Homo sapiens: one gene and its partners. The protein of the gene in region 3 purifies or fractionates together with the protein of the main gene of each other region. This does not show direct contact. Each region holds a gene or a part of one and is shown on either strand. Other genes may lie near its edges.

The links.
Region 1: the proteins of RC3H2 (region 3) and HNRNPC purify together in Homo sapiens (affinity purification with mass spectrometry, with the first as the bait; 2 studies listed by BioGRID). This does not show direct contact.
Region 2: the proteins of RC3H2 (region 3) and HNRNPM purify together in Homo sapiens (affinity purification with mass spectrometry, with the first as the bait; 2 studies listed by BioGRID). This does not show direct contact.

What each region holds. Positions count from the first base shown.
Region 1 is NC_000014.9:21,267,987-21,271,737, reverse strand, and holds the start of HNRNPC (heterogeneous nuclear ribonucleoproteins C1/C2), read left to right. Parts: upstream 1-2,295; 5' UTR 2,296-2,440; intron 2,441-3,069; exon of another isoform or gene 3,070-3,751. UniProt on the Homo sapiens protein: Binds pre-mRNA and nucleates the assembly of 40S hnRNP particles. Interacts with poly-U tracts in the 3'-UTR or 5'-UTR of mRNA and modulates the stability and the level of translation of bound mRNA molecules. Single HNRNPC tetramers bind 230-240 nucleotides.
Region 2 is NC_000019.10:8,468,856-8,472,606, forward strand, and holds part of HNRNPM (heterogeneous nuclear ribonucleoprotein M), read left to right. Parts: intron 1-2,470; coding exon 2,471-2,572; intron 2,573-3,751. UniProt on the Homo sapiens protein: Pre-mRNA binding protein in vivo, binds avidly to poly(G) and poly(U) RNA homopolymers in vitro. Involved in splicing.
Region 3 is NC_000009.12:122,898,752-122,902,502, reverse strand, and holds part of RC3H2 (roquin-2), read left to right. Parts: intron 1-3,751. UniProt on the Homo sapiens protein: Post-transcriptional repressor of mRNAs containing a conserved stem loop motif, called constitutive decay element (CDE), which is often located in the 3'-UTR, as in HMGXB3, ICOS, IER3, NFKBID, NFKBIZ, PPP1R10, TNF and in many more mRNAs.

The DNA of each region.
Region 1 (3,751 bases), on a different chromosome or scaffold from region 3:
GAAAAGAAAGAAAAGACAGGGCTGGCATGGTGCCTCCCAGCATTTTGGGAGGCCAAGGAGGGAGGAATGCTTGAGCCCAGGAGTTCAAAACTAGCCTGGGCAACATGGTAAGACGCTGTCTCTACAAAATATAAAAATAAAATTAGCCAATGTGGTGGTGCACACCTGTGGTCTCAGCTACTCCAGAGGCTGAGGTGGGAGGATTGCTTGCGACTGGGTGGTTGAAGCTGTAATCATCCGGGATTATGCCAATGCACTACAGCCTGGGCAACAGAACAAGACCTCATCTCAAAAGAAAGAGAGAGAAAAAAAGGACAGTCTATCTGCTTGTCCTGGAAAAATAAAAATTTCCCCTGATAAATAAAAGTTAATGGTTAATATTTTATTAATTTATTAATAGGTAGTAAACAAGGAAAATATATTGAAGAGTAAGAATTAAACTCTGCCATCAAAAAATCTTACCATCCAGGAAGGGAGAGGAGTGTAAAACTACCCACAGTGCTACGAGATAATTTTAAATAAATTGCAATGTGGCAATTGAGTCGAGGCTTTAAGCACTCGTAGGATATTCTCCCTCTGATTACTTGCTCAAAGTAGATGATTTGGAAAATATAGAAAAGTACAATAAGATTTTAAGGCTGGGCGCGGTGGGTCACGCCTGTAATCCCAGCACTTAGGAAGGCTGAGGCGGGCGGATCACGAGGTCAAGAGATGGAGACCATCCTGGCCAACATGGTGAAACCCCGTCTCTACTAAAAATACAAAAATTAGCTGGGCGTGGTGGCACGCACCTGTAGTTCCAGCTACTCGGGAGGCTGAGGCAGGAGAATCGCTTGAACCTAGGAGGCGGAGGTTGCAGTGAGCCAAGATGGCGCCACTACACTCCAGGCTGGTGACAAAGCGAGACTCCGTTTGAAAAAAAAAAAGTTAAAAAAAAAAATCACATGTAATTTTCCCACCAGGAGAGAACCACTACTAACACTTTAGTGTATACTTTCTCCCATATTTTTCGTCTTTGCTTTTTAAAATAGTTTAAAGTGGTCTGGCGTGGTGGCTCACGCCTATAATCTTATCACTTTGGGAGGCAGAGGCGGGCGGATCACCTGAACAGTCTGGCCAACATGGCGAAACCCCATCTGTACTAAAAATACAAAAATTAGCTGGACATGGTGGCGCGCACCTGTAGTTCCAGCTACTCAGGAGGCTGAGGCAGGAAAATCGCTTGAACCCGGGAGGCGGAGGTTGCAGTGAGCCAAGATCGCGCCACTGCACTCCAGCCTGGGCGACAGTGACTCTGCCTCAAAAAAAAAAAAAAAAAAAAAAAAAAAAGAAAAGAAAAAAGAAACCGCTGGCTTAGTAGAGCTGATGCTACCCCACTGCGTGCGCAGTTCCTATAATGTAACCAGAGAGACTGGCAGGTGACGGGGGTAGGTAGGAGACAAGCCATTTCAAGAGGAGGGAAATTAAGGGACCAGATTTGGAAGGATGGGCCAATTTTGCTGGCACTTAAGATATTAGATGCCCTGGGGCCAGAGGCCAGGATTCTGCACTTCCTTTTTATATTGGAGAGGAATAAGGAAGTCAGTTGGTTTCGATGGAACATGTGTTGTCTGAAGAAGGGTTTAATAGGCCAAGAAGCAGATGTCTACGAGGTAGCTGACATTCGAATCTGGAACTGAGAAAGGGTCTGGGGTTGGAAAAACTGCAGGACTGGTTAGTTTTCTACACACTTTAACAAGGCCTAGTCACTGCTGCTCCCTCCTCATTTTAAGAAAAGTCCTTTCTTTATTCACATTGCACAACGGAGGCTTCATTTCGCGCTTTTTTTTCCCTAGGCCCGGGGCTGGGGCAGGTCTTTTGCGCCCGTCACCTAACTACGCCCCTCAACCCTTTCCCCGCCCCCGCGCAGCCGGAAATCCGAGGTCTGGGCGGATCTTCTACTAGGCACTCTAAGGGGCAGCGATAGGACGCCGCGGCCGCCAATCAGGCCTCCCAGATACCCGGATGTGAGACGGTGCGCGATACAAAGGCGAGTTTCCACCCAGAGGGTCGTCCCGTGCAATAGCCAATAAGCATTCTCCAGGCAATAAATGACAGGAAAACTAACCAGTTATAAACTAGTTTCTCTCACGCATGTGGAAATTCGCCTGCTTAGTCTAACCCACTGCTAATTGTGATTGGATATCATTGTGAGGAGCGGTTGAACTGTCTAATTAGGAGCGGGAGCGAAAAAACGCACAGCCAATAGGAAGATTCTCAGGAATGGGGCGGGGACTAGGCCTTCGCCTCGGCGGCAGAGGAGACTCGGGGGCCATTTTGTGAAGAGACGAAGACTGAGCGGTTGTGGCCGCGTTGCCGACCTCCAGCAGCAGTCGGCTTCTCTACGCAGAACCCGGGAGTAGGAGACTCAGAATCGAATCTCTTCTCCCTCCCCTTCTTGGTAAGTGGAGAGGGCGGACGCAGGGAAGGCGCTGGGTTTTTCGGGAAGCGAGAGGGGGTGTGGGAGAGAAGATGTGGGAATCCTTCCCCCTAACTAACCGGGCCCTCATTTATTCTGCTTGTTTTGGGGGATTAGGTTGAAGCCGGGGGCAGTTTTATAGGCCTCAGCCTCTGTATAGGTTTAACCTGGTGTCCTCTAGGCCACGATCGCCAGGGAAAATGTCCTTTTTTCGCTCTTCCTGTGTTAACGGCTGCTTTCCTTTCATTTTCTACGACCGCGAGGACTACGGGATCATGAAAATGAAGATCGTGATGCTCATTAATATAGTCGAAGTTAACGTAGCGCCGATGCCTTCTATTACCTCCGTTCTTCTTACATGTAAAAAGTGGGGGAGGGGAAGGGGGAAGGTTACCAAGTAGATGTATCGCGAGCCTTTAAATCCTGGATCGTGCCGCGTGGCCTACGAGAAAGGTTTAACAAAAGATTCAGCATTTTACTGATAACTTTTTATTTTATTTCTCTCTATGAGCAAATGATGGAGCTCGAAGTAGTTATTTTCACTTACATTTGTAAAAGGAAATATTGTGATATAACTATATTAATATTTACAGCTGACTTTTCATCTGCAGGTTACAAAACACTTGAAATATATAAGTTAGTGGAACTTTGCTTGAGGTAGGTATTAACTCTCTTTCTCAGACGGAAACTGAGGCAGAAAAGTGTTGGTTGCTAGGGTCATATTAAGTCAGTAGCAGCACTAGTAAGGAATTTGACCACGAGGTCAGTCGAGTGGTTTTTACCTAGTTAATGGAATACCTAGTTAATATAGTTCTAAAACTACTGTATTGCAATCTTTGCCAAGAACCTGATGACGGAAACCACGAGGTAACTGGAAATTCCCAAATTGCGCTTAAGAAAAATACTACGAGACTTGAGAATTTTTTAACGTAACTTCCTAAGTGTAAGATGACAAAATTTGACTTTCGGGATATTCTGGCGTTAATTTTCCCGTCCGCCTAAATGTGGGCAAAAATTCACAGCTACGTTATATTAAGCAAATATTAACAGTGCCTATTATTTGCTGGGTGCTGAAATTTGATAAAAAACTTAAAAGTTAAAAAAAATTGTTTAGATCTTTAGTGTCACATTGACTTATCTGGGACATCGCTTTTTTTAATCCTCACATGAGATTTGGCTAAGTTTATTTTTCACAATCTGTTAATCTCACAAAAACTAAAGCTGTTAAGCACAGTTTAAACCCATTCTGCAGGGTAAGAAATTCATCTGTAAGGCAATCTATTTGATAGGAAG
Region 2 (3,751 bases), on a different chromosome or scaffold from region 3:
GCTGAGAGTTTGAATTGGAGTTACACTAATAAACAGAAAATTACCATATGGTTTCACTTGAACCTGTGCCAGGTTAGCCCTCAGTTCTCTTGGCCAGTTCTTTTCTATAGATTTTTCAGGGTGAGAAATGAGCAGAGATTCACAACTTGAGGATATTGTTAGGATTACCTCATGGTAATCCTAGGATTGTAATACCAGGATGTAGAGGATGTGGTTAGGCATTTTGAAAGTGTCCTGGGGAAGGAAGAATCAGAACCTGTGAAGGGAATGAAAACCAGGCTGCACTCTAATTCAGAAGATACTGGTTAGTCCCATGTGGGCTAGCAGTGCACACTAGACATCTGCACAGAAATTCGCACGCAGATGTTTGCAGCAGGATGAAAGACACATGCTGCAGTGTGGATGAACCTCGATTTCATCTACAGGAAATGCTCCGCATAGATAAATGCATAAAGGCAGAAAGTAGATTAGTGGTTGCCTGAGGCCGGGAAGGAGTAAGTAGGGACGGGACTGCTAATAAGGTTGGATTTCTTTTTTGGGTGATGAAAATGTTCTGGAATTAAATGGTAGTGATAGTTGCATATCTCTGAATATACTAAAAACCACCGAATACTTTGAGTTTTATGGTATGTGAAGTGTCTTGAACAAATAATTTGTATGCAGAGGGGAAAGGGATCAGCTATTTGTGACACCCAGGTGAAAATCTGTCTCGTGACAGGGAAGGCTAGTTGATGGGCTACCACATAGGTAGAAGTGGCAAATATTAGTGCAGAGTCATAGATAAGCCAGAGGCTGGAAGCAAGAACCTCAGTGCATACAGCGGTGGGACGACTCAGGGAATCACTGGCGCAGGTAAAGCTCTCCTGGAGAAGAAAGATGGATGAGGGTGAGAGGCCTGTGTGTGCTGTGCTGGGGTGACCTCCACCAGGCGGGTTGAGGGGGCCTGGTCTGGAGCAGCAGCTCAAGCTCAGGGCCCTACTCACTGAGTTGGATGGGAGCCCAGGCCAGAGCACCTTTGCAGCGTAGCATTATGGCAGCATGACAGATGTATCTTGAAGGGAAATCTGTGGCTTCATGAGAAGGCTCATCTGTTGAAAGGCAACATTAGTTAGAGAAGGATTGCATTTCCTGGACATAACATACTCATTTCCCAAATAAATTGTCAGTGTGCTCACCTGAGCAGTGGTCACCCTGGACCATGGCGATGGCTCTTGTTGACTCTTGTGCTGGAGCAGGAGGAGGAGCACACTGCTCCAGGGAGCCTGTTATCCATGGCTCTTGGTCTCCCGGCCATTTCGGAGGCTTGACTTCAAAGCCTTCAGTGCTTTGGGAGAGTAAGTCACCGTGGCGATCTCTTGCTGCTGTTGCTATGCAATTAAAGATGGAATGTTCATCAGATGAAACGCCTGGGAAGTGGTGGCAGGTTTTATTTACTTTTTAAATGAACTTTGTTTGCTTTCTTTCCTTCCTTTCTTCCTTTTTCTTTCTTTTTGATGGAGTCTCGCTCTGTCGCCCAGGCTGGAGTGCAGTGGTGCGGTCTTGGCTTGCTGCAACCTCCATTTCCTGGGTTCTAGTGATTCTCCTGTCAGCCTTCCAAGTAGCAGCGATTACAGGCATGTGCCACCATGCCAGGCTAATTTTTTTTTTTTTTTAGTAGAGATGGGGTTTTGCCATGTTGGCCAGGATGGTCTCGAACTCCTGACCTCACGTGATCCACCCGCCTTGGCCTCCCAAAGTGCTGGGATTTCAGGCGTGAGCCACTGCGCCTGCCCTTGTTACGATTTTTAAAAGCTTACCTGGTTGTAGTTTAAGCCTCAGATGGTGGTTACCCCAGATATTGCAAGTGTCAGCTCTTTTGGCTGTTTCCAGAGACCAGCCTGTATTTCTGTGTCCCTGTCTGTGTTGGTAGGGCATGGAGTTGAGTGTGGGCTGGGTATCCAGTTGTGGGTTGGGAAGCTTTGGGGGAAGGAAGATAGGTTCTTTGAATACATACATTAGCTTCATTGTTACTAAAACCACCCAGATTCAGAGAGTAGTGGACACCCAGGATGTTGATTGGCTGGTTTGTAACGTGTTTTTTCATGAGAAACATCCTTTGGGCTACTAGGGATTGGGCACATTTGTGCTGCTTGCCACCTGATGTCTTGAGTCACCTTTTTTGATCAGACAGTTCTCAGTCCATGGGTTAGTGAAACAAATAGGCTCTCAAGAATCTTAGTGTGGGGGTTGTTAACTTTCCCGTGTTGGTTTTCAGCCGCCTTTGTTGTATACACACATATCCCAAACGCCGGAACAAGGCTCTGTTTCCAAGTGTGCCGATGTTGAATTTTGCATTGGGCCCTGAGGTCACTGGTGGGTGGGGGTGGGTAGGCTGAAGTGGATAGCTGCAACTCACTAAACACTCTTTTCCTTTGAGGGTCAAGGTTTGCTAAATAGGGGAAAACTAAGCTTCTTTCTCTTTTCTTTCCAGATGGCCTTGGTGGTATTGGCATGGGGTTAGGACCAGGAGGGCAACCCATTGATGCCAATCACCTGAATAAAGGCATCGGAATGGGAAACATAGGTCCCGCAGGTGAGAATGACAGTGCACCTTGCTTGGTGGTTTGGGGAAGTGAAAATTATTAATTATTGGGACAACTGGACTTTGAGTAGTTTAAATGGAATAAATATTTAACTGGGACAAAATTCCCTCCTTATTCATCTCTGCCTCATTTTGAATAAAGGCAGTATTTTGTATTTTTATCAAGTTGAGTCATTTTTTAAAAAGTCATTATGCTTTTTCATTGTAACCTGACAACAACCTTCTAAGCTGAAATAGTTGTGCCATTTGATAAGAGGAGGCAAGCCAGAGAGTTGATCTTGCTCAAGGTCACACTGTCAGTTACTGACAGGCTGCAGGTCTCCTGACCACGGGACCATAGCACTGCCGCAGTGCCCTGAAAAGTGTCTTACCAAGACCCCTTTGGGCCCTCCTGGTGTTTGCACAGCTGCTGCTAGAGAGCTAGGGGCATTGATAGATGCAAAAAAGGTGGAGAGGCCAGGCACGGTGGCTCACGCCTGTAATCCCAGCACTTTGGGAGGCCGAGGTGGGCGGATCACAAGGTCAGGAGTTTGAGACCATCCTGGCCAACATGGTGAAACCCCATCTCTACTAAAAATAAAACAATTAGCCGGGCGTGGTGGCGCACGCCTGTAATCCCAGTTACTCAAGAGGCTGAGGCAGGAGAATTGCTTGAACCCGGGAGGCGGAGGTTGCAGTGAGCTGAGATCACATGACTGCACTTCAGCCTGGCAACAGAGCGAGAGTCCGTCTCCAGAAAAAAAAAAAAAAAAAAAACCTGCATGAAAGCTTTGATGTGTAGAATAAACTCAGGCTTTGCTGTTTAGCATTTTCATTGCTGTGTAATGATGTATTTTGATTCTATTAAGGAATATGTCATTTTTATGACCTTAGACTTTGGTCTTTGTTGGAATCCTTTGAAATTGGAATATGGAAGCCCCTCTATCCCACCATTGTCAGTGTTGCATATCCCTAGACTCTCTTCCAGAGTCACCCTGGGGCTGACTTAAATTCTGGGCCACAACTTCAAATGGCTGTTAACGTTTCCCCCGACCCAAAACACACACACCCCATGTCTGACATCTAAACAGAAAGACTGGGGGTTGGGGAGGAAGTCTTGGTGTTTTTAGGAACTGGTTTTTATTTTGAAGATTTTACCTTTAACAGGGATTGATTTATTGAGACGGAATT
Region 3 (3,751 bases):
TCACATATTTCTATCGGATATTACTGTTGTAGATCAGCATTACTCTTCCAAGAAATATGTTAGTGGAATAAAAGTAGATGTATAAAAACCCAAAACTTCCAGATAGATTATCCTGTTACAATCAGAATAATTAAAGAGCTAAGGACTTTGGTAATATGAAGGATGAAGTTATCCATTGGCTATGATTTGATAGGCAGAAGTAAGTTCTATCTCAAAGAAAGTATTTTTCTCGTCATCACTAATATTAGTTATACTTGTTAAAATAGAAAGTTGGCTGGGCGCGGTGGCTCACGCCTGTAATCCCAGCACTTTGGAAGGCTGAGGCGGGTGGATCACCTGAGGTCAGGAGTTCGAGACCAGCCTGACCAACATGGATAAACCCCATCTCTACTAAAATTACAAAAAATTAGCTGGGCCTGGTGGCGCATGCCTGTAATCCCAGCTACTCCGGAGGCTGAGGCAGGAGAATCGCTTGAACCCGGGAGACGGAGGTTGCAGTGAGCCGAGATCGCGCCATTGCACTACAGCCTGGGCAACAAGAGCGAAACTCCGTCTCAAAAAAAAAAAAAAAAAAGAAGTAGTTATCTCATTATTGCCCTATTAGAATGCATTGAGACTGGGCGCCGAGGCTCATGCCTGTAATCCCAGGACTTTGGGAGGCCAAGGTGGGCAGATCACGAGGTCAGGAGTTTGAGATCAGCCTGACCCACAGGTGAAACCCTGTCTCTACTAAAAATACAAAAATTAACCGGGCATGGTGGTGCGCACTTGTAATCCCAGCTACTCAGGAGGCTGAGGCAGGAGAATCGTATGAAACCGGGAGGCGGAGGTTGCAGTGAGCCGAAATCGCACCACCGCACTCCAGCCTAGGCAACAGAGTGAGACTCCTCCATCTCAAAAAAAAAAAAAAAAAAAAGAATGCATTGGAAGTTATATCTAATATTTATTTTAAAACAGTTCAACCACATAGTGTATTTAAGAAGTAAAATTTGAGTCATATATACTTCACACGTTAACGGCAAAATCACATATTATAGCAGTCTTTTAAATTGCAATTCAATTCCTTTTTCTCCAGTACTGAGTTTCTAGCTTACAGGTTGTTTCCATTGCTGTTTTGGTTTTTACTTGTCTTTTAGCTAGAGATCCAAATTGTGCTTATGCTTTAAATATCATTTTTTAAGAACAAAACTAATTATTTTTAAGTTTTCTAAACGGGGAAGTACTGTGACAGTCCATTTCAGTAGCTTATATTCCTCACATAGGTTAACAAGAATGAAAACAATGGTTTTAATTAGAAGAACTAAGCCCTAAGGTTTACATTTTTATTAAGAGAATTGTAAAATGATGTATACATATATGACAGTTAAAGAAGCATAAACTTTATTCTGGCATTTTAAAATCAGATGCCGTAGACCTGAACTGGCTGCATAATATGGTGGACTAATAAGAGAAAATGAAAGTATTTAGCTGGCTCTTAATAAAGCAGTTTGTAATTTGAATCATATAAGAGATGCCTATTGTGCTTCCTGTTTTATGTGTCAGCACTCATAGCAAGGAACTTACAGTCTGGAAAATTATTTGAGCGAAAAATTGTTTATGGTCCCACCTTTAATTTAGCATTTCTCACTCCTATGCTTTATCTTATTATCCTTTTTCAATTTTTGTAACTGGTAACTAAAATTAGTTAATACAAATAATTAGAATGTTTTTCTTAAGGAATCACTTTAGGTATCTTGAGTTGTAGGCCTTTTAGTCCATTTTATCTCAGTTTGAAATGTTTTGATTATTTGAGAAGAATACTTCAGTAGTAACTATAAATATTCATAGCAATTTAGACTTACATAGACTCAAATAAGTTGCATAAAATGTATTAGTATAGGTCTAGAAGTTTTGCAAATTAATATGTAGTCTTAGTGCTCCATGGTTCATTTATATGCTCTTTAAATTATAAAAACTATAGGATATTTACCATTTTTGGTAGTTACAAAAATATTTTCTAGGTAAATGTTTACAAAGTGCCTGTTTTGAAGGAATGAAGTTTCTTCTATGTTTTAGGTAAAATTTTATATTGATTTATCTTAATTAAGGAATCTAGGATTTACTGATAATATTACTGAAGAAAAACATATTTGGAAAATCAAAGCGTTTCTTACATCTGATCGTATAAGGGAAGTTTAGTTGATAATTTACTGTCAGAAAGCTAGACTCTGACACAGAGAAGAAAATTTGGTAGAGTTATTGCCAAAATTTTGGCAGTGTTTTACCTTTATATCTTAAAGGTATTAATTCAATTTGTGGTAGAAATTAAACTTCTCAGTATTAATTATGTTAAAACCTCTGATGTTTCTATGCTGAAACACACTAAGGACTATTGTAACATAAAACTATACTAAGGACTATTGTAACATAAAACTATTAAGTGTGCTCTGGTATAGTTTGAAACAGTTTAAAACTGTGTAGTAGGTGACAATATGAAAGATAGCATTTTTCTGTATGGTTGAAACTCCCCCACCCCAAGCCCCACACTTATGTGCTTTAATATAAAGCATTTCAGAAAGGCTTTGGAAAACTAAGGAAAAGGTATTTGCTCTTATTTTGTACTACCAGGTGGCCTGTGATACCCTAACCCACAGAATTAACATTTCCAAACAGGTGGCCATTATGAAAAACTACACGCAGTGTCCTGTTTTCATAAATATTTAATCAGTTCAAGTTATTAACTATATTAGGGCTTTCAGTAGATTTAAGATGAAATTCATTCTTCCTCAAAGGCCTTTTCTTGTATAACTCTGCAAACCAGAAAACTGGATGTTAAAAATGTTCAGTAGTTTTAGGGAGTGATATATTCATCTGCTCAGTGCTTATCTCTAAAGTTGGAAGGAAACTAATTGGTTTTTAGATTGATGGCATTAATAGATGTGGTAATTTGAGGATGAAAGTTGTAAAATTATAACTTGGAAGATTTGGTTACTTTAAAGATAACGATATTAGATAATTTGCATTAGAGCTGTTTGAGAAAGTTTGTATAGGGGTGCTTTTTACATAGCAAGCCCTGTAATTCATTTTTACCAAGATTTTTTTTAATCTCTGTTTTTGTGAATATAAAAGCGCAGGGCCGGGCGCGGTGGCTCACGCCTGCAATCCCAGCACTTTGGGAGGCTGAGGTGGGCAGATCACCTGAGGTCAGGAGTTCAAGACCAGCCTGGCCAACATGGAGAAACCCTGTCTCTACAAAAATTAGCCAGGCATGATGGTGGGTGCCGTCCCAGTTACTTGGGAGGCCAAGGCGGGAGAATCACTTGAACCTGGGAGGCAGAGGTTGCAGTGAGCCAAGATCACACCATTGCACTCCAGTCTGGGCGACAGAGGGAGACTCTGTCTCTGAAAAAAAAAAAAAAAAAAAAAAAAAAAACACAATAAAGGCTAATAGAATTTTTTTGTATGTTGGCATAATTGAGAATACTTTCTGTTATATATTTTTTCTCTTTGAATGTGACTACATTTTTAAACATCTAATTTCTGTGGAACTAATATATTTGGGTTGGTAAACATTCCTGTGAAATAAAGTATTAGTTGTTTGATTGCCCTAAATACCTAGATTTCTTGTTCACCAGAGAGCTTTTGTCAGACTTATGTTAAGTCTTGAATTGGAAGATAAAGAAATTCTGGGAAGTTTAGTGTGTTCAAATTAGTATCGTTTTGCTACTAAATCTTTTACTTTACTAAACTTATGGAACTTTTTTTTTTTTTT